7 linked regions of the Homo sapiens genome follow. The protein of the gene in region 4 interacts with the protein of the main gene of each other region in a pairwise test. Each region holds a gene or a part of one and is shown on either strand. Other genes may lie near its edges.

Region 1 (4,296 bases), on a different chromosome or scaffold from region 4:
CAGACCCTGGGGAGAAGGATGCCCTGCTAGAGTCAGCAGGAGTGCATATTCCTCTTAGCTGATGTTTCCCTCTGGTGGTGAGGTTATCCGGCCTCTCATGGCTGGGTGATTTTAACAACAAATTGACCCCTCTTCTTGCCTGATTCCCAACTCATCAAACCATTTTCTGATTATATTTTGGTTTCTAAAGGATATTGTCCCACACAAAGAAACGTGCTAACCAGATGACACAAATTCCCGGTTAGTGCTGCACTTTTCTTTTTAGTTGTAAATTATAAATCAGTCTTTTGGATCTAGCCAGGGGATTAAAAGCACAGTTCTAGAGGCAGACCTGGGCTTGAGTCTTGGCTGTGTCTCTTTCTTTTAAAATTTTATTTAAAATATTTCTTTAGAGATCAGCTCTTGATCTGTGGTCCAGACTGGAGTGCAGTGGCACAATCATAACTCACTGTAACCTCGAATGCCTGGGTTCAGCCTCCTAAATACCTGGGATTACCGTTGCGACCCACTGCTTGGAGGTCTGTCCCTTTCTTTTTCTTTCTTTCTTTTTTTTTTTTTTGAGACGGAGTTTTGCTCTGTCGCCCAGGCTGGAGTGCAGTGGTGCGATCTCGGCTCACTGCAAGCTCCGCCTCCCGGGTTCACGCCATTCTCCTGCCTCAGCCTCCCGAGTAGCTGGGACTACAGGCGCCCACCACCACGCCCGGCTAATTTTTTGTATTTTTAGTAGAGGCGGGGTTTCACTGTGTTAGCCAGGATGGTTTTGATCTCCTGACCTCATGATCCGCCCGCCTCTGCCTCCCAAAGTGCTGGGATTACAGGTGTGAGCCACTGCGCCCAGCCAGGTCTGTCCCTTTCTAGCCAGGTTCCTTTGGGCAGATTGTTTAACCTTTCTGAGTCTCAATTTCCTTCTCTGTAGAATTCCATATGCGCATATCCATTTTCAGATAATAACAATACTACCTTCACAGGGTAGTTGTGAGAGTTGCATGAGATAACGCATAAAGAAACTATGACAAAGCGCAGCACAGGGCCAGGTGCAGTAAATGCTCAATAAATAATAGCTGTTATTAGAATCCTGTGAGTTTGATTAGCATAAATGCCCCTGACCCCAAAAAGAAAAATCTACATTCTTGGGACTACAAAGCTGACCAGCTGGCTTCTGAACCAGTATCTCTATGCCAGAGTACTCCCAGAGGTACTCTATCTCCAGAGGGCCTCCTTCCCCACTCTGAGCTAGGGTTTCCTGGCCATCGTTACAGATTGAGGAACTAAAAGGAATTTGGGGCCAGGTGCGGTGGCTCATGCCTGTAATCTCAGCACTTTGGGAGGCTGAGGCGGATGGATTGTTTGAGCCCAGGAGTTTGAGACCAGCCTGGGCAACATGGCGAAACCCTGCCTCTACAAAAAATACAAAAAGCTGATGTGGTGGTGCGTGCTTGTAGTCCCAGCTACTCAAGAGGCTGAGGTAGGTGGATCACCTGAGCCCAGGAGGTCGAGGCTGCATTGAGCCGTGATTGTGCCACTGCACTCCAGCCTGGGTGACAGGGTGAGACCTTGTCTCAAAAAAAAAAAAAAAATGGAGTTTGGTCTGAGAAAGAACCAAACTTGAACCTGTCCTCAAAGGGTATGGGAGGACATTGGGTGGCTCTGTGCTTCTCTTTCCAGTCTCTCTCCGAGAGTCCCCACTGAGAAGGGAACAGAAAGCAGGTGACGGCCTCGCTTCCCTGGGAATCTTAGGCAGGACCTAGAAGAGGGTGGAAAGGGAACAAAGCTGCCTGGATTCAGACTGCATAGACTGTAGAACAGAAAGCAGAGGTGGGGCTGTAGAGCGCTCCTCCCGGTGTTAGGACTGAGTTCTGTCCAATGGAGCCAAGCCTCTGGGCCCTGCCATTGCAGGACAGAGTTGTTGATGGACTGATTGATGATGGGTGTGACCACTCCTGCTCTATCCCCCAGCAGCCCAGCTGACTGGTGAGGGAATGGCCAGCCTAATGTAGGTGGCAGAGAGCCTCTGTGCTCTCTGGGAGGCCTCCTCCCACTGTCCCATCATGCCAGCTGTCTCCTCCCTTTGTCCCGATCCCTGGAAAGTGGCCTGAGGCTCTGGCTGACATCACCTCCCCTCCTCCCTCTGTCTTCTCTTTCTTGATCTCCCTCCTTTGCTCTATCTCCCTTTTTTCCTTATCCCTCGTCTCGAGATGGGCCTCCTGGGGTCGTTCAGCCTCTCGTTTTCCGTTTTCCGTGAGCCACTAGGTCCTTTCAGCCCCCTCCAAACCTTTTACTTGCCTCCCAACCACAAGCCTCTGCCAACCACCAGTGGCCATCTGTTCCCGCCCAAAAGGAGCAGATAGGACTCGGGCTACGCTTGCCCCTTCCCCTCCATTCAGGCGCAGCCTCTAGGAAGAAAAAGGAGAATGGGGAGGGGGCGGGGAAGAGGGGCGAGCCCGGAGCCAGGAGGAGCAGGGGATGAGGAGTGAGAGGGAGAAGGGAAACAAAAGTGAGAGGAGGGGGACACAGCCTCCTGGAGAAGAAAGGGACCAAGGAGAGAGACAAAGAGAGGGCAGAAATAAAGTGACAGGAGCGCAGGGCAGGCCGTGGAGGTCTCTCCCCGGCAGCCTCCACTCCCTGGTGGACTCACCGACGTGGCAATGGCCATGGCTTTGGCCTCCCGCGCAGCCTGCCTCAGGCCAGGCTCGGTTTTGCTGACTTCAGCGGTGGCTGCCCCGCACCATGGTCCGCGGCCTCTAGCCCCCAGCTGTGGCGCCTGAGTCGTGGCCTCCGCCAAGGTTGGAGGAGGAGAAAGAAAACCCACAAAACTTCCCAAATGAGAGGCAGGCTAGCCAGGCAGGAGGAGGAGCGGGGCGGGCCGGGGCGTCGCTGCGGGACGGCATCCAAGGGCGCGCGCTGCGTGCTGTCCCCGCGGCCTCCCGGGCGCCACCGGCTCGGCCAGGCCCCGGGAGCTGCCCGCCCTAGGCCGCGGGGGCGCCCCGGGCTCGCAGGATCCGAAAATTCCCTTCCCGGGCCGGGGCGGGTGAGCAGGCGGGCGCTGGGCTGCGCTCGACGCCTCTCCAGGCCGCTCAGGAGAGCCTCGAGGGCTGGGAGAAGCCGCCGGGGCGGTTGGGCTGGACGAGCGAGTTTAGGGGCCAACCGTCTCCACCCGCCGGCCGCGCTGCAGAGCGGTGCTCCCAGGGCTGGGGTCTGCGGCGACCCCGCTGGGAGGAAGGGAGAGCGAGAACTGAGACGCTTGCCCCAAGTTGCCTGGAGCCAAAGGCCCCCGAGAGCGTGGCCGTGGGGCTGGGTCGCTGGAGTGGCCGCTTCGGCCCAGACACTCGCACCCCCGGCGGTGCGGCGGTTTTCACGCGCGCACTCACTCAGCGCGCCCGGGGGTCTGAGGTCGCCGCTACGGCGCCTCGCCCCGGGCAGCAGCAACCAGCACGCAGGCACCCCTGGAACAGGCGGGACTGCCTTCCCGACGCGCGGCCTGCGCCCAGGCGGCGGAGGGGCCCAGCCCCCTTCCAGTCCTCGGCTCCAGGGCGCAGGGCCACGAGCTCCCGCTCCCACCCTCGGCCCCTGGCACCCGGCGCCGGCTCCGCCGCCCTCTCTCACACGCACCCTTGGCAGGGCCCCGCGGGGCGCCCCAAAGCTTGGGGGCAGCTCCCAGGTGTCTCTGGGAAGGGAAAGAAAGGCCACAAAGCAAAAGAAGGAGCAAAGAGAAGGCGAGGGAGGAGCAGGGGCCCGGGTCCTGTGGACTCGCCTGGGCTGGGAGTGGGGACACTGAGAGGGCTGCGAAGGCTCCGGGGGTCGCGCGTGGCCCGCAGGCTCACCCCTGGCCCGCGGCTGCCCTTCCCTCCCCTTCCTGGGCTCCTGGCCCCTCTCAGTGCTGTTCCTTTCTCCTCCCCTCAGGCCCTCTCCTCTCCCGCGCAGGGCTCCGTCCTGGGGATTAAGAGAAAGGAGGGAGGGGAAAGGGGAGGGGAAGGGAAGGGGCGGAGGAGAAAGAGGGACGATCCTTCCAAAGGCGGGTGTTGAGTTTCAGCTCAGGACCCTCGGGTCCAACTGCCTGTGGTACCCCCCACACCCCCCACCCCCGTCCCGCCCTGGCCCTGCCCCAGTCCCCGGCGCCTTCCTCCTCCGGACTCCGCTGCATGCCTCGCTTGCGGTGGTCCGATCGGCTTTCTCCGGGAGCTTTCCTCTCCCCGCCACGCCCCCGTCTCCCCGGCCGTCCCCGCGCCTCTCGGCCTCCCTTTCATTAGCCCCACATCTGTCTTTCCCATGGGAGGGAGCGCGCGCCTTCCGCCCAGC
Region 2 (3,500 bases), on a different chromosome or scaffold from region 4:
CAGGGTGAGCAGGGCATTCCTGCAGGCAAACAGCCTGTTATGGGGAGTTGGAACCCACACAAGTGAGGAGGGATCCATGCAGCAGAGGCAGCCTGGAATGGGGAGTCAGGGCCCATGGAGCGGGAAGAGGTATCTATAAGGTGGAAAGGACGGAGTTAGAGAGCGGGGATTGATTCATACAGGGGAACTCATTAATATGTAAATAAACCAATGAAAGTGAAAGCTGTCAGCAAAGGGAGTTGCAATTAAGGAATGGAAGTAAATCAGATTGAACCCTATGGTGCTGTATTAGATCTGGATCAAACAGTATAGACTAGTGGTCATAGAGATATTGATGTAGATATATAGATACAGGCCAGACACGGTGGCTCATACCTGTAATCCCAGCACTTTGGGAAGCTGAAGCAGGTGGATCACTTGAGGACAGGAGTTCAAGATCACAAACATGGTGAAACCCCGTCTCTACTACAAATACAAAAATGAGCCAGGCGTGGTGGCACACACCTGTTGTCCCAGCTACTCGGGAGGCTGAGGCAGGAGAATTGCTTGAACCAGGGAGGTGGAGGCTGCAGTGAGCTCAGATTGCGCCACTGCACTCTAGCCTGGGTGACAGAGTGAGACTCGGTCTCAAAAAAAAAAAAAAGATATATAGATATAGAAATAAATACAGATGTAATGTGTGTATACGTACACCCATTATTATATTTACACTTACTCCCTAACTCCACTGAGAAGGCCTGGGAGCAGTAATACCCCAAAAGCATGAGTACATCTAGTGCACAGCTTTTGGCTTCTGATTTTCACTTTCCACTGAAAGAGATCAGGGCTCTTTAGAGGTATGTTCCAGAAAGCAGTCAAGTGAGCAAAGAACAAATGGGGTTGTATCTGGGAGATGCAGAAGCCAGCTTGAGTGGGGTTTGTCACTGGTCAAATCAGGGACAGTTTGAGGATCAAATTAACGATAGTAATGGATTTAAGCCCATTGAATAAAGATAAAATACTGATACAAATAACTAAATGAATACATTGAAAATTCGATGAGGAATGGGATATTTATATAGTTTCAAAGGACGTATCCATGAAATGAAAATTAAAGTTATTAATTACAGAAGGGTGAAAGAGTAACATTACAGGGAGGAAGACTGGCAGACGCCATCCTAATAAAGTAATTAAAATGAACATCATCAGTAATGAAAAAAATGAAAACATGCCAGTTTATAGGATGGGATGAGAACACAGCATCACCTCTGTACTGTTTTTGCCAAAAATCCATAACGTGAGTCCCATCATTAGGAAATATCAGACAAACTCAAATTGAGAAATGTTTTATACAATTGGCCTGTAACCTGTAAAAGTGTCAAGATCATAAAAGTCAAGAAAAGGTTGAGAAACTATTCCAGAGTTTTGTTGCCAACACATGGCAACAAAATGAAAAGTGTGACCCTGAACTGTATCCTTTTGCTATAAAGATGTTATTGGGAAAATTCGAGAAACTTGAATGGGGTCTTCTTAGATGACAGGGTCCCCTTGTGTGGTTCCCACAAAGACATTCTCCTTCATAACCACAATACAATATATCTCATTTACTAAGGGGACACTGAAGTATTCTAAGGATAGGGAATCAGGTGAACAACTTACTCTCAGAGAACTCAGGGGATAAAAGTTCTTTATATTGTACTTAATTTTAACAGTTTTACTTTTAAAAAAGTTTTACTTTTAAAAAAGTATTTTTTTAATGGTGGCTATTAAAACATATGAAGCATTTTTTTAAATGGTGGCCACCATGTAGGGTATCTGCTAAGTCTGCTCTATACTCTCAGAATTGCCTCTCCCATCTATAGGGGTGGGTTCCTGTATTTCTGAACTATGTGGCTCTGATCCCAGGGAATAAAGGTGGATTCCACACTCAAGCCATGTCAACAAAATTCTGTCTTCTACGAATTTGTATTTGGAAATCAGAAGCTAATTAGTTTCTACTGCCTACTTCAAACCTAGAAAACACGTAAACTGAAAAACTCCATCTGACATTTTGGGGTAGCTGTCTTCTACAGTGAGCATAGGGTAGACAAATCTGGTCTGCAGAGAGGGAAAATAGCAAAGCAGATAGATACCCAGAGAGAAGTAGATACAGGAGACAAGGCCCAAGAGAGAACGAAAGGCACTCCAATTCTAGTCCCTCATGAAGCCTCAGCTCCTGTAGGATACTACAGCACCCGCACAAAGTTCCTCCTTTTTGTGCAGGCCAGCTTGAGTGGATTTCTGCCAGTTGTAGACAAAAGTCTGTGACATCTCCTTCCCTACCTTGTGCTAAACTTTACAGCAACCCTGCTCCTTCTACAATAGGTCTCTTGGTGCCACTGTCAAGGGTGACTCTTTGATCATTGGTGTGACCCAAACATAACACCACTTAAGGGATCCAAGGATCTCAAGTCGGTTTCACTCACCAAGGCTGGCCTCGGCCAACAGCAGGTAAGCAGGCACAAGCTCTACGGAGCTCAGGCCATACAGCTTCACACGGAAGCGAAGGGACTGCAAAGCTGCTGGTACAGCATCTTCGTGTTTCCCTTCAAAGAGGTATTTCTGGGCTATGGTGTAGCAGAATTCAATCAAATACTTCTGTGGAAGAGAGAAACAGACTATCTGAGACAGTCTAAAGTTAAAGGCAAAGGTGGATGTAGATGGCCCTGGGGATAAGGCCAACACCTAATGACCCAGTTAAAGGCACATAGTGAGCCTGCCTGTATTAGAGTGGACGTGAAGCCCCACATAAGTGATATAAGAAAGCAAACTCTGGACTATGAGTTCCTTAAGGCCCAGGAACATGTGTATTTTCATCTTAGTTCAGCGCTTGGCATAGATGAATGCTCAATATAGAGTTATCAGATGAATAAATGAGTATTGTTTTTACAGTTCTAATAAAACTTTACTTTAGCAAAGCTAGCATGTCTCAGGACAATCTGAAACTTTCTGCCTTCCTAGTTGAGTTAATTTTGAGAGAAACATCTCATTTTCCCTTCCAGAATTATCCTGTTTAGCTAATATCACAAAAAACTTTAACTCTGCATTGTTCTAAGGCCACTATCAAAGTGTCATAACACTAAAATGGATGGATCTTATGTTTAGAGATTTATGGCTTATAATAAGGGGCTAATTTTTTAGAGTGATTGAGATGCTCAATACTCAATAATACTCAACACTATACATAATAATAGTGGCAGGTTTTGGTAACCTCCTTTATTTATTCAGTAGTATATCCATACATCATTCTTAACCCTCCTATTATGTGGCCAGACTCTTGGCATCTGTGGATGTTATGGGCTGAACTGTGTCCCCTGCCAAAATTCATGTGTTGAAGCCCTATCCTGCAGTCTGTCACATGACTATAATTGGAGCTAGGGCCTGTAGAGTGGTGATTAAGTTAGAATGAGGCCATTAGGGTGGGCCCTAACCTAATCTGACTTGTGTCTTTATAAAAAGAGGAAATTGGACACACAAAGAGA
Region 3 (3,953 bases), about 130 Mb from region 4:
CACACATTTACTGAATGCCTACTCTGTGCCGCAGTTCCTGGCAGGTGTGCCTGACAGTGGGTGTGTAATATGTTCAGGGTCTGTATCCCATGAGCGTGGGGATCTCCTTTATCTTCTGGCACATATGGTCCTGGGGGAGAAGCTAAGGGGAAGGGTCAGGAGCTTACATGGCAGATTCAGTAAGCTTTTAGCACAATAATTTTAATTGCAAAAATAAACAGTTTTGTCAACTGCTTGAGAGTAGCGTCTGCTTTACAAAAATTAACAACAACAAAAGGAAAAAAAACCCAAAGCAAAACGTTACATCCAATGGCTGCTGGATAAGACACTGCTGTACAAAGTCCCGCGCGAGACCGCCTTGGCGCTGCCCCAGCCTGTCTCTGGGGGTTATAGAGGAAGGCGTGGGGCGTGTGCCAGTTACAAAAGACTGTCTTGAATCCCAGGGTAGTGCCTATTCACTGGGTGGTCTCAGAAGACTTCCCCCAAAGCGCGGCTGACAAGGGTGACAGCGCCTGGACCGCGGGAACTGTCCGCGGAGCTGGTGCTGAATAGGGCGTGTGCGGCGGGCGCTTCAAGGAAACTGGAAGCGGGACCGGAGGCCGGCCCTCGGGCGTGCGAGGAGGAGTTGGAAGAAGAGCGGGGAGGGGAACGGCCCGGAACTCGTGCGCGCCGAACGGCGGCGCCCCAACCCATAAACCCATCTCTTGCTCAGAGAGAAGCGAAGGAGAGGCCCAGCGAGTAAAAGCCGAGGCCCTTGAGCCGCTCCTCGGCGCGCGCCTTCTGCTTGAGGTGCACCTTGCTGTGCCGTTTCTTCTCATCGCTGCGCGCGAAGCGGCGGCCGCACACGTCGCAAGCAAAAGGCTTCTCGCCGGTGTGGGTGCGCACGTGCGTGGTGAGGTGGTCGCTGCGGCTGAAGTTGCGGAGGCAGATGCGGCACTGGAAGGGTTTGTGGCCCGTGTGGATGCGCAGGTGGCGATTGAGCTCGTCGGAGCGCGCAAAGCTCCGCACACAACTCTCCACCGGGCAAGCGAAGGCCTTGGCGTGCGGCCGCGGGCAGAAGCAGCGCGTGCTGCATTTGCCGCCGCGGCGCCCCTTGCGTCGCGCCTTGGCCTGGGGGAAAGGGGTGGGCGGCGGCGGCGGCACGGGTGGTGCAGCCACGCCACTGCTTCCAGGGATGTCCGCCACCAGAGGTTTAGGGAAGTCCGCCGCGGCGGCGCTGCGAAGGCCCAGCGGGGAAAGCTGAGGCTGCGTACTGGCCAGAAACTCTCCGCCGTCGCCGCTACTCCCTCCCTCCCCACTAGGAGGGGTCAGGAGCCCAGGGAGGCCCTCAGCCCCCTCCCCTAAGTCACCCGGGGCCAGCGGGAAAGCGTCATAGGCCCCGCTGGGATAGAGTCTGTTGGCTGGGACGGCCGGCAGTTCCGCAGGGCAGCTGATGGACAGCAAGTCCTCAATCTTGGTCCCTATTACGGGAAAACGAGCCTCCGGGGCGGCCTGGTAGTCTCCCTGTGACCCACAGTTCCCTGGGGCCCCCACAGAAAGCAGCTCCCAGGGCGCGTAGGGACCCTTGAAGGCAGAGACAGCGTCCAGCGCTGGCGAGGCGGGAGGCGCCCGGAGGCCGGGCTTGACGTCGGGCGGGGAGAGCTGAGGCTCATACAGGCACTGCGAGGGGGCACCCGCGCAAGGCGAGGCCTCCCAGAACGCCTCTGGGAAAGGGGCAGCGCCCAGATCCGGGGAGTAAAGGTCCGGCGGACCCGGCAGCAAGGCATCGGACCCCGCAGGAAAAGGGGCATCCAGCGGGGATCTGGACGCTGCTGCCTCTGGACCGGGGAAGGGTGCCAGGCCTAAGATGCCCGACATGAGGTTGAAGAGTGCCTCCGGGTCGTGCGGGTGTTCGGGCACTGCCTGAATGAAGAAGCTACCGCTGTAGCTGAGGCCGGGAGGGGGTGTGGGCGCAGGCCCCTCCAGGAAGCAGGAGTCGGCTAAGTCCCCACTTGCGCCGCAGCTGTTCAAAGCCCAGCTCAAGAAGTCGCCTGCTGAGGAGGGAGCAGGAATCAGCTCTGGGCACATCAAAGGGTGCACCTGAGTCCACAGCCCCTACCTACAAAACTCTTGGTGCCCACGGATATACACAAAGTGCCTTTTGCACATTCTGATTCAGCAGGGGCCCGCATACGTCCCAAGGAGCACATAGAAACATGCACACGCAAAACACACGTGCACAGGCAAAAGGGCGCTCCGATAACCGCACAGGTTCCTGCGGAGGCGCTGGCGGCCCAGTGTGGGTGGGAATGGGGGTGCGCACCCCAGGACTCCTAAGCTTCCCATCGCCCCTATTCTCATAGCTCCAATGTCCCAGTCCCTCCTGGTTCTCAGGTATGGTGCGCCCCCGCGCTGCGCCGTCGTCGTCTGAGCACCCCTGCTCGCCCTCCTTACCTCCAGGGTAGCCGGTGGCCGCGGGAGCGTCCCTGGCAGGCAGCCGGGGCAATTCAGCGCTGGGTTCGGCGCAACAGCCTTCAGTGGACTTGACGAGGAGCGCGTCGGGTTCGGAAAACTCGCTAAGGTGGAGCATGGCGCGGCGCCGGCTGTGGGGCGCCCGGGGCCTCGCCCGCTGGGCTTGGGGGCGCGCGGGTGGCGGGGAGGCTGGCGGTAGGGGTTCCCCGCAGCGCACAGACCTAGGCGCCCGGGCTCCTGGCTTCGGGCACTCACCTCTGGGAAAGGAGTCGGGGAGCCGCGGCGCCCTCGCTCGCCCGCACCGGCCTCGGGCGGCGGCTCCTCGCCTCTCCAAAGCGCTGCCGGGCTCCCCCAGCCCACAGCCCCCCCACTTATATAGCTGCGGCGGCGCTGGCTCCGGGCTTCCGACTCCCCGGGCCACTGCCATTTTGGGAGGCCCCGGCCCTGCCGCCGTGACGTAAATGCCCAAACATGGACACAGGATGTGTGCCGGGGACTCCCGAAAAGGAAAGCTCGAGCTGTGACGTTGTTGTTGTCGCCGCCGCCGCCAGGCTCGCGCCGCTGCGTGCGCGCGCGCTCCCCAGGCGTGGAGCGCTGGGGCCGCGGATGCGCCAGTCTGGGGCGCTGCGCCTCACCGGGCCGACCGTCCGGTAGATGCGCTTCCCACCTGGAGGCAGAGGCCGAGGGGCAGCAGGGGAGGACCGTGTTGGGTTTGAATCTGCCCTCTGCCACTAACTAGCTTGACACTCAGTCCCCCTTAACGTCAGTTTCTCACCTGTGCATTTCCTGTGGAGAGAAACTGAGAGCACATAAATGTCCAGGCGCACTCAGTAAACCACAGAGATTATTGCCATTCATTTCTTTTGCTCACGCCTGTGTGTTTTTCCATTTTAAGTTTTTTTTTTTTAAATTTGTGCTAGGAAAAATAATTTAAATTAAAAAGGACTGTAATACTTGTTAACAGTAGGAGGAAAGTCAACTAGCACAACAGGGTATATTCTAAATTGAAAAGTAAAAGTCCCTCCTCTCCACCTACCTTCATTCCTAGCTCCTGAGGTAGCCACATTTAAGTTTCTTGGGTATTCTTTCAGAAGAATTTTATGTATATCCAACCATACACATTGTTCTGCAATATTATTATTATTATTATTTTTTCACTTGAAATAACTTAGAGATTGTGCCATGTCCTGACATAAAGATCTTGTCATTCTTTTTCAAGGCTGTATAGTACTCCATTGTAAGGGAGGACCTTGAGTTAGTCGATTTGTCCCCTATCCATGAGCATGTAGGCAGTTTCCAACTTTTTACTTATACCAATGTTGTTGGAGTCAACATCCTTGACTATATAAATGTGAATGTGTCTGTGAGATAAATTCCAACGAGTGTAATTGTGTGCCAAAGTATATGTAAAATTTTGATAGACAACTGGCAAATTGTCTTCCAGAAAAGTAGGGCCAATTCCTGCTCACTCCTCCCTCACCCACAGGGTATGAGATGCTTCT
Region 4 (3,500 bases):
GCTGTTCTTGCAATAATGAGATCTGGTTGTTTAAAAGTGTGTAGCACCTCCCGCCTTGTCCTCTTGCTCCTACTCTGGCCACGTGACCAGTGTGCTTCCCCTCTGCCTTAGGCCATGAGTGTAAGTTTCCTGAGGCCTCCCCAGAAGCCAAGCAGATGCCACTATCATGCTTCCTGTACAGCCTGAAGAACCGTTAGCCAATTAAACCTCTTTTCTGCATAAATTACCCAGTCTCAGGTATTTATAGCAATGTGAGAACAGACTAATACAGTGATATATGTCCAAACACATACATTTTATAGCAGACAAGAACCTGTTACTAGCCAGCATCATTAACTCTACAAATATATTTCGTAGCAATTGAGTCTATCTCCTCCCCAATCAAAACAGATTTTAGATTGCAATTTTAAAACACCAGCCAACTTAAATAAACCTGAAATTCTTTAAAAGTCCATTGTCTATGAGTTTCCAATGCTGCTATAATAAGCAACAGATTCTGTTAAAAATAGACTTACAGAGGCTTTCCATTTGTTGTATCAAATATTTCCTATAAAATATACCTTAGAATTATTGTAATAGACTTTTGTTAATCACTTAACCTATAATGAAAATATTTCTAATGATAATTTCCAAAAACTGTATAGAAGGTAGCTCCATATTAAACTTAAAAATCTCTAATAAATGAAATTCAAGCAATAAAAAAACACAAATTTATGCTACCCTATTGGAAAAATGTATGAGAAACTTTACCTCAATTTTCTCAGGAAATGCTAATCTTTGGTCACATACTTTCTGGTTAGTACATTATTCTTATTTTTTTTTAATACGAAGTACAACAAAACCAAAAACAAACAAAAATCAGAGGTGCAAGTAAGAGAATAGCCAGATGACTGCATCTGCCTGCCAATGAATAAGCAAATACTTACCTGTAGGGGGAGTGGAAGAAACAACAGGGGGAGTTGGAGAAGTGAAGCCATCAGCAAGGGTCTGGGCACCCCCAGCAGCAGCGTCTGGGGCAGTGGAGGAAGGGACAGTAGCAGGAACAAGAGGAGCAGGGGCAGATGCAGAAGTAGCAGGAAGGGGAGGAGTGCCAGCAGAGCCAGCAGGGGCTGAGGGGAAAGAGGAGTAAGAGGCAGCATTAATGAGGCAATCACATGAGGCAGGATTAGAAAAGGTATTAGAGTATTTAATGTTAGATATTCAGTGCTTAACACTAACCAAAAGAACAGAGTTGAAAAAAAGAATAAAACTTATGCTAAAGGATTACTATATAAGCAGCAAATAATTCAAGATGCTCAGGGTAATGTGCAGATTTTTTCAATTCATTAAAAACAAACATTCCTTTTCAATTGAAAGCACTACTCCAGAAGAAAAGTGTTCCCTTCGTATTGTTATTTTTAGCATAACATTCTGTATATAGTATACAAAACTAACATAATACACTAAAAAACAACAGTTTTCCATTTTGAATTACACAAATCAGAAAATAGACATATTCCATATTATCAGATTAAAAATTTTTTTTAAAACACAAATCTTTATGATTTTTAAAAGGCATTATCTACTTGTTACTATAAGTAAATTAAGTATGTAACATTCTATTAATGTATTTTGTGTCACGTTTTCAAAACTAAGTTTTAAGTGTGTATCTCCTCGAATCAAATAAGCAGATTTTTCTGTTTCAGAGAAAAGAGGGTAGTATTTTCAGAGACTACTAAATTCCAATACAGCCACTAAATTTAACTGTCAAAACTACTTTTTATATCTGCCCAATCCTTTGTTACTAATATGGTTCTCACACTGAGTTCCCACTGTGTCCAAAGACTGCACTGTCATAACACTAGCTGGAATTAAACTTGTACTCATAACAAAGTGTGATCTGAAACCTCAAAGCAGCAACTGAGCCACATCACCAAAGGCATAAAGAGAAGTGCAAAGTGAGCAAACACTTACAAATCACTTGCTTACAAATAACAAATATATAGACTTCCCAATATTTATGATTCCTAAAGAAAAAAAATCCTGATTACGAAGAAAGCCCACCATAATTAAATCACAAATTGAATCAAATTCAGAAAGGAAAAGTGAAGACGAGGCACCATGAATGTTTTACCTGGAAAGACACTGGGAGGAGATGGAGTAGGAACAGCAATAGGAACCCCCACACTACCACTTCCACTGTTCTCTCGACTGCTGCTCCGACTACTTGGGTGGCTCCCTCCACTACTCCCACTGCTGCTAAAGAAATAAGAGCCACCAAAACATGAGTATTTATAAACAGTAAGAGATCATCAGCACTTCCCGACATTTTCTGAGATGAATGTAGCTACAATAAAGGTAATTCAAAAGCGTACCACTTCAAAATAAAATTTCCTTGAGCTCCAAGTCAGTGACAGGTTAAAAAAAAATGTGTGTGTGTGTGTGTGTGTGTGTGTGTGTGTGTGTATATATATATATATATTTACTTATTAATAAAGTTGAGGGGAAAACTGAGTTCAATAAGCTTGTTTTGACCACATTTTGAAAAAATTATCCATAAATACAAGTGATAAATGTTGAGGTTTAACACATTAAAACAATAAATATTGCCTTTTTATATTCCAGTTTAATGCCTATCTGAAGAAACTTCTTTTATAATAAAACAAAAACATTTTCCTAAACAGATTTGAGTAATTTTAATTAATAATCATACTCTGATGTACTATCCCATATTAATGTTTTATTATGTATAGTTTTTCATCTGTAAAGTTCCACCAAAAAACAACCTGACATTTCCCACATTTGGTCCATAATTTTTTTTCCAGATCAACTGAACTCTTAAAACTTGGAGAGAAGTCTGCACTTTGAGATGTCTGTTCTTTATCAACTTCCTGACTGCTCAAAGTTGAATCAGAACATGAGGAGAGAGAGGTGAAATCAGATGAGGTTTGGGAGAATAGAGTGAGGAAAAGAACTTAGTGCTTGGAAAATGAGAGATTTACCTGAAGTAATCTGAACAGATTATGGTACTATGACCATCACATTTTGCACTGAGGTAGAGAAAATACCTGTAAGTTCGATTTCTTTGATTCACAGAAGCTGTCCTCACAGGGCTCTGCTGCGAGGGAGCCATATTACGGGTTGGGCTAGGTACGTAATCATTTGGTACCACTGGAGGACGCACTGGCTCCAGTGTGCGATAGGGGGAGTGCCGCCTACAAAAAGAAGAGCGTATGTATTGTATGATTAAGCAAGTTTCGGCACAATAAATTCAAAGAGTTGCCAGCAGTTGAGATACAATTTGTAATCAGAGATAGGAAATGTGTTTTAACATAACCCAGCTACCAATTTCAGTCTTTACTAATGTATCACTTCTCCACCATTAGGGTTTTGGTGAATATTGTTATTTTTCAGTCTCCAACCTCATTTCCCTGTGCTAATGCAATTTTGTTCATTTATTCTCAAAGAGCACAAAGGTTCTCTACCATTTAAGCCAATGTTTCCCAGACCCTACCTCTTCT
Region 5 (3,500 bases), on a different chromosome or scaffold from region 4:
AATGTTTTTAGTCTTCTTAAATTTGTTAAGACTTGTTTTGTGACCTAGGCTGTGATCAGTTATAGAGAATGTTTCATGTCCTTTTGAGAAGAATGATTATTTTGCTATGGTTGGGTCTCATGTTCTGTATATGCATGTTAGGTCTTTGGTCTATAGTGTTGTATAGTTTGCAATTTACTTGTTGGTATTCTGTCCGGATGACCAGTACATTATAGACAGTGACGTATCAAAGTCTCCTTCTGTATTGTATTGATATCTATTTCTTCCTCCAATTCTATCAATATTTGCTGTTGGCATTCTGTCTGGATGACCTGTACATTATAGAGAGTGATGTATCAAAGTCTCCTTCTATATTGTATCGATATCTATTTCTTCCTTCAAATCTGTCAATGTTCACTGTATATTTTAAGGTGCTTTGATGTTGGGTGCATATGTATTTTTAGTTGTTGTATCTTTCTATTGAATTGACCCTTTTACTATTATATAATGCCTTCTTTGTCTCTTTTGACAGTTGTCGACTTAAAGTCTATTTTGTCTGATATAGATAGCCACCCTGCTCTCTTTTGGTTATAGTTTGCATGGAATATCTTTCTCAATCCCTTCACTTTTAGCCTACGTGTGTCCTTAAATGTTAGAGTCTCTTGTAGATAGCGTATAGTTGAGTGTTGTTTTTATTATCCATTTCAGCCATTCCATGTCTACTGAGAGCCCTTAATTATTAAAAATTTAAAGTAATAATTTTTAATAATTAAGTACTTAATTGTTTCCATTTTATTCATTGTTTTCTATTTGCTTTCTGTTTCTCCTGTTTTTCTCTTGTTTGTTGTCTTTGTGATTTGATGATTGTAGTAGAATGCTTTGATTTTTTTCTTTTTTTTGTTTATTTACTATACTTTTTATTTTGGTTACTATGGGGTTTGCATCAAATATTATGTAGTCATAGCAGGCTTTTTAAAGCTAGTAACAACTTCATTCATATTCAGAATCTCTACACTTCTCCCCCCTCTTCCTCACCAATGTATGTAATTGATTTCAGATTTTACTTCTTTCTATATTGTTTCTATTAACAAATTTCTGTGGTTGTTGTAGTTACTCATACTATTTTTGTCTTTTAATTTATATACTAGTGTTCAATGAGATTTACGTGCCACAGATTTCAGTATTGCAATATTCCATGTTTGTTTTCATGTTTGCTTTTAGCAGTGAGATGTATACTTTCATATGCTTTCATACTGTTGGTTTAGTATCTTTTCAGTTAACTTGAAGATCTCCTGTTAGCATTTCTTGTTAGGGCATGTCTAAAAGTGACAAACTCCCTGAGTTTTTTAATCTGAGGAAGTTTTCATGTTTTCTTTATTCTTTTATCTTTTTCTTTTCTTTTTTTTTTTTTTTTTTTTTTTTTCCAGGTCTGGCTCTGTTGCCCAGGCTGGAGTGCAGTGACATGATCTCAGCTCATTGCAACCTCAACCTCCTGGGCTCAAGTCAGCCTCCCACCACAGCCTCCCAGGTAGCTGGGACTAGAGGCATGCACCACCATGACTGGCTAATTTTTGTATTTTTTGTAGAGACAAGATTTCACCATGTTTGCCAGGGTGGTCTTGAACTCCTGAGCTCAAGCAATCTGCCTGCCCTCAGCCTCCTCAAGTGCTGGGATTACAGGTGTGAGCCACCATGCCTGGCTATTTCCTTCATTCCTGAAGACAGTTTTTTCAGGTAATTATTTTCAGTTGGCAGGTTTCTTTTTTTACTTTCAGTATGTTGAATATGTCATTCCCTCTCTCCTGGCCTGCAAGTGTTCTGCTGAGAAATTCACCAATACCTTTATGGAGGCTCTGTTATATGAAATAAGTTACTTTTCTGTCACTGCTGTCAAAATTTTTTCTCTGTCTTTGAATTTTGACAAATTCATTATAGTGTCTATTGGTACAGACCTCTTTGGCTTCAACCTATTTGGGAACTTTTGGGCTTCGTGAGTCTGGATGTCCATTTTCCTCCCTAGATTTGGTAAGTTTTCAGCCATAATCTAAATGTGCTTTCTGCCCCCTTTCTCTCTGTCTTTTTGCCTTCTGGAACTTTTATAATGTGTTTATTAAGTTACTTAGTGGTGTACCATAAGTCCCGTAGTATTACTTCATTTCACTTTTTATTCTTTTTAATATTTCTTCCTCTAATTGTATAATTTCATATGACCGGTGTTCAGGTTTGCTGATTCTTTCTTTTGGTTGATTGAGTCTGTTGTTGAAGCCTTCTATTGAATTTTTTAGTTCAGTCATTGTATCCTTCAGCTCTAGGATTTCTGTTTGGTTCTTTTTTATGCTTCTCCTTTATTGAACTTTTTGTTCATGTATTGTTTTCCTGATTTTTATTTCATTTTCTATCTGGGTTTGTTTATTTGTTTGTTTGTTTTTGTAGCTCATTGAGCTTAAGATGATTATTTTGAATTCTTTGTCAAGCAGATCATGGATCTTCATCTTGTTATAGTCAGTTTCTGTAACCTTATTGGTTTCCTTTGGCATGTTGTATTTACTAATAATCCCTTGAGTCTTTCATTGGTGTCTGTACATTTGAAGGAGCAGTTCCCACTTCTGTACTAAACAGAGTGATTTCAGTAGATGAAGATCTTCTCTTGCTGGGTCCCTTGGTGAGACTGACTTCCAAACCACAGTCACTTAGGTGGAGCCAGGTTGTGGGTCTGCTTACATGTTCAAAATCAGGTCTGCGGTTGTGGGCCTGTTACTGGGGCTTGGGTGGGTGTGGTTCCTTCTGGGTTCCCAGACAAACAAGTCTTCCTGTGAGACCTTGGACAGGTGAGTTGAAGCCCACATGCTGATGAGGCTGCTGCTGGGTCTGGAGCCAGTTCTGTAGTCACATGCCTGCTACTGGGGCATGATTCTGCCTTCTCAAAATGGCTTCTATCAGTCTTGGACTCCAGAAGGATGTCACAGCCTTCTACTTGGACCCATCAGGGCACTTTTATACATAGATGGTTGCTAAATTGGTGTTTCTGTGAAGGACAAGGGCTGGGGAGGTCCTGTTCCACTATCCTTTTCTAGCTAAAACCTTCTTTGATTTCTTTCATAGTTTTGTAATTTGTCACATACAGATCATTTACATATTTTGTTAGACTTATAAGTGTTTTTTGTGCTATGATAATGGTGTTTTTAGTTTTATATTTCATTCTAATCATTTATTGCCAGTATATAGGAAAACATTTGACTTTTGTATATTAACCTTATATACTGTGACTTTGCTATACTCACTTTTTACTTTTAGGGGGTTTTTTTTGTTAATTCTTTAGCATTTCCTAAATAAACAATCATGTCTTTTGCAAATGAAGACCACTTTATTCCTTTCTTCCTAAGGTATTTTATTTCCTTTGCTTGCTTCATTTCACTAGCTAGGACTTCTGGAACACTGTTGAATAGGAGTGGTGAGATAGGACATCCTCGTGTTATTCCCAGTCTTTGGGGGAAGTATACAGTTTCTCAGCCTTAAGTGTG
Region 6 (3,500 bases), on a different chromosome or scaffold from region 4:
AGGTATTTTTGCTTCTTCAGTTTTATTTTATTTTATTTTTTTTGAGACAGAGTTTCGCTGTTGTCACCCAGGCTGGAGTGCAATGGTGTGATCTCAGTTCACTGCAACCTCCTCCTCCCTGGTTCAAGTGATTTCTCCTTGCCTCAGCCTCCTGAGTAGCTGGAATTACAGGCGCCTGCCACCACGCACAGCTAATTTTTGTATTTTTAATAGAGATGGGGTTTTACCATGTTGGCCAGGCTGGTCTTGAACTCCTAACCTCAAGTGATCCACCCGCCTCAGCCTCCCAAAGTGCTGGGATTACAGGTGTGAGCCACCGCACCCGGCTGCTTTTTTGGTTTTAGTTATTTTATTGAATTTCTTCTATGGAAGATGTGGATTTAATCTTCTCTCACACCCCCATTCTTCCCTCACCTTCCCCCTTTTAATACAGTTATATCACAAATTTTGGTTAATCAATATTTTGTGTTTACATTATTGTGACTACCCAAATATTATTTATATGTGAGTCACCTAAGGTACTGTAGCTGTATTTCCTTTCTCAAATAATTTTTTAAATTATTTCTAAGTTTTTTCAATGGATAGAGATAGAAAATGAATATATTTAAGAAAACTTCTTATTGACATATTTATATATACAGAAAGTCCCCCAGAACATAAATGTATATTATGGTGATTTTTCACAAAGTAAATACATCCATGTAACTACCACATAGATCAAGAAACATATAACATTTAATTTTAAGAAAATATTAATTACCAAAGTTTTTCACCTGCTTAATTTTGTACATACATCACTAATTCATTCTAAAACTGAAGTGAATTGAACATATCCTCTTGACATATTTAAATATAGAATATATATATTTTTATTTCATTTTATTCATCTTTTGAGGCTCCTTTCCTGGAAACTCTAATGTAACCTGATTGTGTTAGAATTTTCTTCCTCTTTTATATTCTCTATTTTTGATTTCCAATTCCTCACCTTTCTTGGTTTATCTCCTTGATTTGGGAGTGTACCATAGCTCCTTTTCAAAACATAAATGCAATGATAATTTTCATTACTGAAAATATTTTTATTCTGTCCTATACTTGAATACTATATTTTCTGTGGATATAAGTTTCAGTTGGAAATTATATTCCCTCAAAATTTTGAAAGTTTTGTTACTACATCTTCTAGTTTTGTTACCTCTGAATATTCTGCCCTGTGTTTTCTGATATTTTGTAGATCTGTTTTTATATTTCCTTTCATGAAATTCTTGACCTTTTTTTCATATTCCTGGTGTTCTGAAATTTCACAACAATGTGATCTGGGGTAGGTCTTGATGCATTTATTTGGTAAACATATAGTTGGTCTTTTCAACCTAGAAACTCATGTATTTACGGTCTTGCTTTTTTTTTAAATAATTTCTTTAAGAACTTTATTTTCTCCATTTTCTTTGTATTATTTTCATGGCCTTTCAGACATTAAGAAAATTAAAGAAACAGTCCAGTCCAAGAAAAGCAACGTCCAAATAAGGGGAATTTTAAAGTGACTTGCCTAAGGCCACACAACTAAAAGGTGGCAGATCCTACGTTTAGACATATCTACTTGATTGCAAATCTGTTCTTTTTCCCCTATTGTCTATTGAGTAGAAATTGGTTATCCTAGTGAAATATACACAAATAATGTTTATCTATATCAAATACTGTATTATGTTACTAATATACATACTATATCTATTTAAAAGAAAAAATTTAGCAGGAGATAATATAGCATATAGGATCTAAAATAATGTTGTTGTTTGAAGCTTTATTAGGATCTTTAATATAATCAGACCAAATTGATCACTTTACACTATAAAAGAAGAAAAATAATTTGGATCTCACAGACTGATGTTTACAGAAAGTCTAAGAAATATTGCATTTTATATTTGGTACTATATGGAGATTGATATTCTTATATTTTCTTCTGCTTCAACTCATAGTCATCTAACCAAATTTCTGTTTCCTTCTCTTGTACTAGCTTGTCACTATGAATTGTTTTTTAAAAATTAATTAATTAATCAATTAATAGAGAAAGGATCTCGCTCTTTTGTCCAGGCTGGTCTTGAACTCCTAGCCTCAAGGGATCCTTCCACCTTGACTATGAATTCTTAAAAATACAGCATATATAGCTGAAGTGCTAGTTGCCACATTATTATTTTTTAAACTGGGTTGCACCCGTGTAAATATAGGGAAAAAGAAAGAGTAACAATGTTAGAAGCTCAGAGGCGAGAGAAAGAGAAAGTGGCATCAAACAAAACAGATTTTGATTTTCTATCCATAAAAATTAAGTCCTATATTTATACAATGGTTCAGTAGCTTTTAACAATCTTTAATTTTCACATTCCTCAAGAACTACAACATCTTGAACTTTCTCTTTGGTTGCATGGTTTGGAACAAATCCTGAAACAACTCCCTCTAATGTTTTTATGACTGGAAAGATCTTTGTCCTTTTTTGGGCGTGTTGTTTTGTTTTATTTTTGAGATAGGATCTCACTCTATCACCCAGGCTAGAGTATAGTGGCTCAATTGCGGCTCACTGCAGCCTCTACCTCCCAGGCTCAAGTGATCCTTCTCCCTCAGCCTCCCGAGTAGCTGGGACTACAGTTGCATGCCACTGTGCTTGGCTGATTTTTTAAAATTTTTTGTAAAGATGAGGTCTTGCTGTGTTGCTCAGGCTGATCTCTAACTCCTGGGCTCAAGCAATCTTCCCACCTCCGCCTCCCAAAGTGCTGGGATTATAGGCATGAGCTAGTGCACCCAGCCTCTTTTTTAAAAAAATTAGAAATAAAGTAATCAAAAGCCTTTTTCTAAAGCATCATAGTTTAAAAATTTTTAAGAAATAGACTATTTCAAATTGCTATTGGAGCACAGTGTACACAGGCCTCTGGGAAGGTGAATTTTCCTGTGAAGTGCCTTTGAGAAGGTGCATTTTACTGCCACTGATTTTGGAAAGCAGGATATTTGAGTCTGACCTCTATAAAGGTTGTTTTTTTCCTGGATTTTTATCCATGTAATATCATTCCCTGAACATGCACCACACTTTTATATTTGAATAAAAGGTACTTTAAGGAGCCCTTTAAAATATATTAATATGTCCTTTTTATTAATCTTAATGAATTTACAAGCAAAAAACAAAATATCCTTTTTTTAATATCTGTATACATTATTGATATTAAAGGCAAAACATGGAAATAGAATCAGGTTTCCTTTCAGTGTTATACATCATGGCAATGCGTATTATGTAAACGATGTTTAAAGTGAGCTATAAAGGTTATACTGTGTTTGTCTTGGTTTATGGATCCTATGCCTGTATTTCTTTTGAACATTTAGAGAATATTTATGTGAAAGATCCTTTACATTATTAGGTTATTTCTAGTTTCTTAGGAGTAAATTCCTATGTTTGCTGTGGCCACGGACTGGTGACCACTCTGTTAAATGTGGGCAAGTGTATTTAGTGAAATTCGTCAGTAGCC
Region 7 (3,500 bases), on a different chromosome or scaffold from region 4:
CTAACAAAACATGAGCTCAGGGTGGCGGCCAAGGGCTACTAAGAAATGAGGGCAGGGAACCGCGACCCCTACCACGGGCAAGGGAGGCTTGCTTCTTCCTCATGCTTTCTCCCCGGCTTCAGTAATGAAATCCCCACAGTTCTTTACTAGCACAGGACAGCCACCAGTTAGCAAGGGATTCCTCCGACCCAGGTGCCATCCTAAGTGCTCTATGTGGGCCAACTCATGACAATACTGTAAGGTATGTGCTAGTATGCCCATGTTGCAGATGGGAAAAGTGAGGTATAGACGCTGAGTTAGTGGAGGAGCCAGGATTTGAATCTGGGACATATGGCCCTCAAGTCACTGGTCTCTACCATTACACATACTGCCAAAGACCCCTGAAGACCTGAGTGAGGCAGGAGGGGCTCTTTAAAGATGTCCTGCCTCTCTGATCTCTAGTCCCTGTTCTCATCTTCCCACATCACTGCCCCAACATCGTGGTCCCACCACCAGGGCAGGAATCTTGTGCAGAGCTCCATCGAACCCCGGGGACAGCAGTGATGAGAAGCGGGACCCTCCAGTGTCACCGGGAGCTTCCAGCCTGAGAGAGGAAACAGGGTTTCATCCTTGCAGAGCCTCGGGCTAATAGGGGAGGCCCAGTTCCCACTCTTGGAAAACTCATGTCAGGCCCTAAAACTCAGTCCATTCCCCTGAGAAGCACCAGCCCAAAAGAGAGATGCAAGGCCATTGTCAACCCCTGGAGTTCATTTTCCTTACCCCAATGTCAGGCCGACATGTTTTATTTATATCACAGACACGTTTGTTCTTATGGAACACTCAGTGTCCTTACATATTTTTAAAAATTCTAGAAGTTTTTTCTCAAAGTTGTCTTGAGAAACCATATACATCATAAATTCTGGTTGTTTTTTTTTTTTTTTTTTTGAGACGGAGTCTCGCTCTGTCACCCAGGCTGGAGTGCAGCGGCACGATCTCGGTTCACTGCAAACTCCGCTTCCCGGGTTCACACCATTCTCCTGCCTCAGCCTCCCGAGTAGCTGGGACTACAGGCGCCCGCCACCACACCCGGCTAATTTTTTTTTGTATTTTTAGTAGAGACAGGGTTTCACCATGTTAGCCAGGATGGTCTCGATCTCCTGACCTCGTGATCTGCCCGCCTCGGCCTCCCAAAGTGCTGGGATTACAGGCGTGAGCCACCGTGCCCGGCCATAAATTCTGTTCTTATCCCCACCAAGCCCAGTTCTCCTGCCCCAGCCAATGTGTGTCCCTCAGCCCCCAGGGTCAGCACAGTGTCCTGACAACATGTATAGGTGGAACTGAAAATCAAGCACAATGAGGGACCTTAATCTGCCACAGAAAACCACCCGGCCCACTCAAACCCAGGCATGTAAATCACTGCCAAGGTTGCATTTCTGTTAGCACAGACCACTGGGAATGGAATGCGCCTAAACACCAACTTCTGACAGTGGCAGCTTTATTTTAAGGGACAATTCCATCAAATAATATCCTTGAGTTTGATGAAACAGGTGCAAACTTGTTTTCACTTTTCTAGGACTTGGAGTCACAATCTTAACAGCTGATACAGAAATTTTTTTTTTTTTTTCGGTCTCACTTTGTCGCCCAGGCTGGAGTACAGTGCTGTGATCTTGGTTCACTGCAACCTCTGCCTCCCAGGTTCAAGCAGTTCTCCTGCCTCAGCCTCTCGAGTAGCTGGGACTACAGGTACACGCCACCACGCCTGGCTTTTTTTTTTTTTTTTTTTTTGTATTTTTAATACAGATGGGGTTTTGCCATGTTGGTCAGGCTGTTCTCAAACTCCTGACGTCAGGTGATCTGCCCACCTTGGTCTCCCAAAGTGCTGGGATTACAGGCATGAGCTTCAATGCTTGGCCAAGATGTTTTTGTGAGTACATCAACCCCTGAGAAAATCTGTTCACACTTTAGTGTGTCTACATCTCGATTTTTTCTTTTCTTTTTCTTTTTCTCTTTTTTTTTTTTTTTTTTTTTTGAGACAGAGTCTGGCTGTAGCCCAGGCCGGAGTGCAGTGGCGTGATCTTGGCTCACCGCAACCTCCACCTTCCAGGTTCAAGCAAGTCTCCCATCTCAGCCTCCTGAGTAGCTGGGACTACAGGCACGTGCCACCACGCTTGGTGCTAATTTTTGTATTTTTAATGGAAATGGGGTTTTACCATGTTGGCCAGGCTGGTCTCAACCTCCTGGCCTCAAGTGATCCACCTGCCTCAGCCTCCCAAAGTGCTGGGATTACAGGCGTGAGCCACTGCGCCCGGCATTATTTTTTCTTTGCATATACCACCATAAATGAATTTATTTTACTAAAATGTAATCAAACCATAAATCCTATGCAACTAGTTTTTTCCACATAATAAGATATTGTGGCCATCTTCCCATGTCAGAATACGTAGGGCTACGCCATCATTTTTAGTGCCTGAGTAGCATTCTGTTGACTGAGTGAAGCATGATTTATAATCCAACTCCCTCTACCCCATCTCTTCCCAGATGAGCAAGTCAGAGCCCAGAGACGCCCAAGCCATTTCACAAGAAGACACAGAGGGGTGACTTCAAATGATCAGTCCAAGAGTTTTGCTGTGAGAAGGAACATAGGAAGGTAGCCAAGTATGACATGGCTTCCCATAGCCGGCTTTAGACACCCCAACACCCCTACACCCACATCTCCACGAACCCACACACATCAGAAGAGTATGCAGCTTCGCCTGGGCTCCACCCTGACAGCTGCCTTTGTCCTGGGCTCTGGGGACCTGCCCTCAAGCCTCTAACACAGACCTCAGGGCCAGGAGGCCCCAGAAGCTGATGCCTTGGGCTACTGTCTGCTGTCCTAGTGTCATCACACACAGGGGTCAGTGACTTGTGTTAAGGCCTTCTGGAGTAAAGCCATCATCTCTCTGCCCCTCCAGTAATTTACTAACAGAGATGGAGGGACCCAGGTCTCACTCTGCCAAAGGCAATCCCTCGGAGAAAGATGACCTGGGCCACCCCCAGGGGAGGAAGAAAGAAGATGGCAAGACCGACATTTTCCCCATTAGCAGCCCTCTGGACAGCTCCCTCGGGTTCTGGGCCTCTCTGAGTGTTGAGAAGCTCCAGAAGCCTTGCACTCTTGCCACTTATAGGGAACACGCACCAGTTCAGACAAGGCCTCCGCACTCCCCAGCTGTGGGACCTCAGACAAGTCTCCCATCCTCTCCGTGGCCCTAAGCCCTCATCTGGATGTATCCCTTAGGGGGTTTCAATGGGAATGAAATAAGATAATCCTCAGCACACTGCCTAGAACGTGGCTATGCTGCATTTGAGTTATCATTGCCCCAGGAGGCTGGTAAAGAGCCAGGAGCAGTGGGTAAATTGGCCAAGCTGCCCTCACAGGGGGGATGGGGTAGGGAGATTCTAGGGGGGTCTTCCCCAGCACCTGGATGTCAATCCCTGGAATTCTTTCAGCCCTCTGTAAGGAAATATTGATCCTCATGGCC

What was found.
Region 1: the proteins of ABI2 (region 4) and EFS interact in binary tests that used the Homo sapiens proteins (3 or more experiments, as listed by UniProt).
Region 2: the proteins of ABI2 (region 4) and ZMYND12 interact in binary tests that used the Homo sapiens proteins (3 or more experiments, as listed by UniProt).
Region 3: the proteins of ABI2 (region 4) and EGR4 interact in binary tests that used the Homo sapiens proteins (3 or more experiments, as listed by UniProt).
Region 5: the proteins of ABI2 (region 4) and CEP44 interact in binary tests that used the Homo sapiens proteins (3 or more experiments, as listed by UniProt).
Region 6: the proteins of ABI2 (region 4) and STX19 interact in binary tests that used the Homo sapiens proteins (3 or more experiments, as listed by UniProt).
Region 7: the proteins of ABI2 (region 4) and CUEDC1 interact in binary tests that used the Homo sapiens proteins (3 or more experiments, as listed by UniProt).

What each region holds. Positions count from the first base shown.
Region 1 is NC_000014.9:23,362,373-23,366,668, forward strand, and holds the start of EFS (embryonal Fyn-associated substrate), read right to left. Parts: upstream 2,801-4,296; 5' UTR 2,654-2,800; coding exon 2,636-2,653; intron 1-2,635. UniProt on the Homo sapiens protein: Docking protein which plays a central coordinating role for tyrosine-kinase-based signaling related to cell adhesion. May serve as an activator of SRC and a downstream effector. Interacts with the SH3 domain of FYN and with CRK, SRC, and YES.
Region 2 is NC_000001.11:42,446,023-42,449,522, forward strand, and holds part of ZMYND12 (zinc finger MYND domain-containing protein 12), read right to left. Parts: intron 2,617-3,500; coding exon 2,445-2,616; intron 1-2,444. UniProt on the Homo sapiens protein: Required for sperm flagellum function and male fertility.
Region 3 is NC_000002.12:73,290,749-73,294,701, forward strand, and holds EGR4 (early growth response protein 4), read right to left. Parts: upstream 2,801-3,953; 5' UTR 2,570-2,800; coding exon 2,434-2,569; intron 2,034-2,433; coding exon 709-2,033; 3' UTR 181-708; downstream 1-180. UniProt on the Homo sapiens protein: Transcriptional regulator. Recognizes and binds to the DNA sequence 5'-GCGGGGGCG-3' (GSG). Activates the transcription of target genes whose products are required for mitogenesis and differentiation.
Region 4 is NC_000002.12:203,394,394-203,397,893, reverse strand, and holds part of ABI2 (abl interactor 2), read right to left. Parts: intron 3,195-3,500; coding exon 3,048-3,194; intron 2,239-3,047; coding exon 2,114-2,238; intron 1,110-2,113; coding exon 927-1,109; intron 1-926. UniProt on the Homo sapiens protein: Regulator of actin cytoskeleton dynamics underlying cell motility and adhesion. Functions as a component of the WAVE complex, which activates actin nucleating machinery Arp2/3 to drive lamellipodia formation.
Region 5 is NC_000004.12:174,290,411-174,293,910, forward strand, and holds part of CEP44 (centrosomal protein of 44 kDa), read left to right. Parts: intron 1-3,500. UniProt on the Homo sapiens protein: Centriole-enriched microtubule-binding protein involved in centriole biogenesis. In collaboration with CEP295 and POC1B, is required for the centriole-to-centrosome conversion by ensuring the formation of bona fide centriole wall.
Region 6 is NC_000003.12:94,022,098-94,025,597, forward strand, and holds part of STX19 (syntaxin-19), read right to left. Parts: intron 1-3,500. UniProt on the Homo sapiens protein: Plays a role in endosomal trafficking of the epidermal growth factor receptor (EGFR).
Region 7 is NC_000017.11:57,885,913-57,889,412, forward strand, and holds part of CUEDC1 (CUE domain-containing protein 1), read right to left. Parts: intron 1-3,500.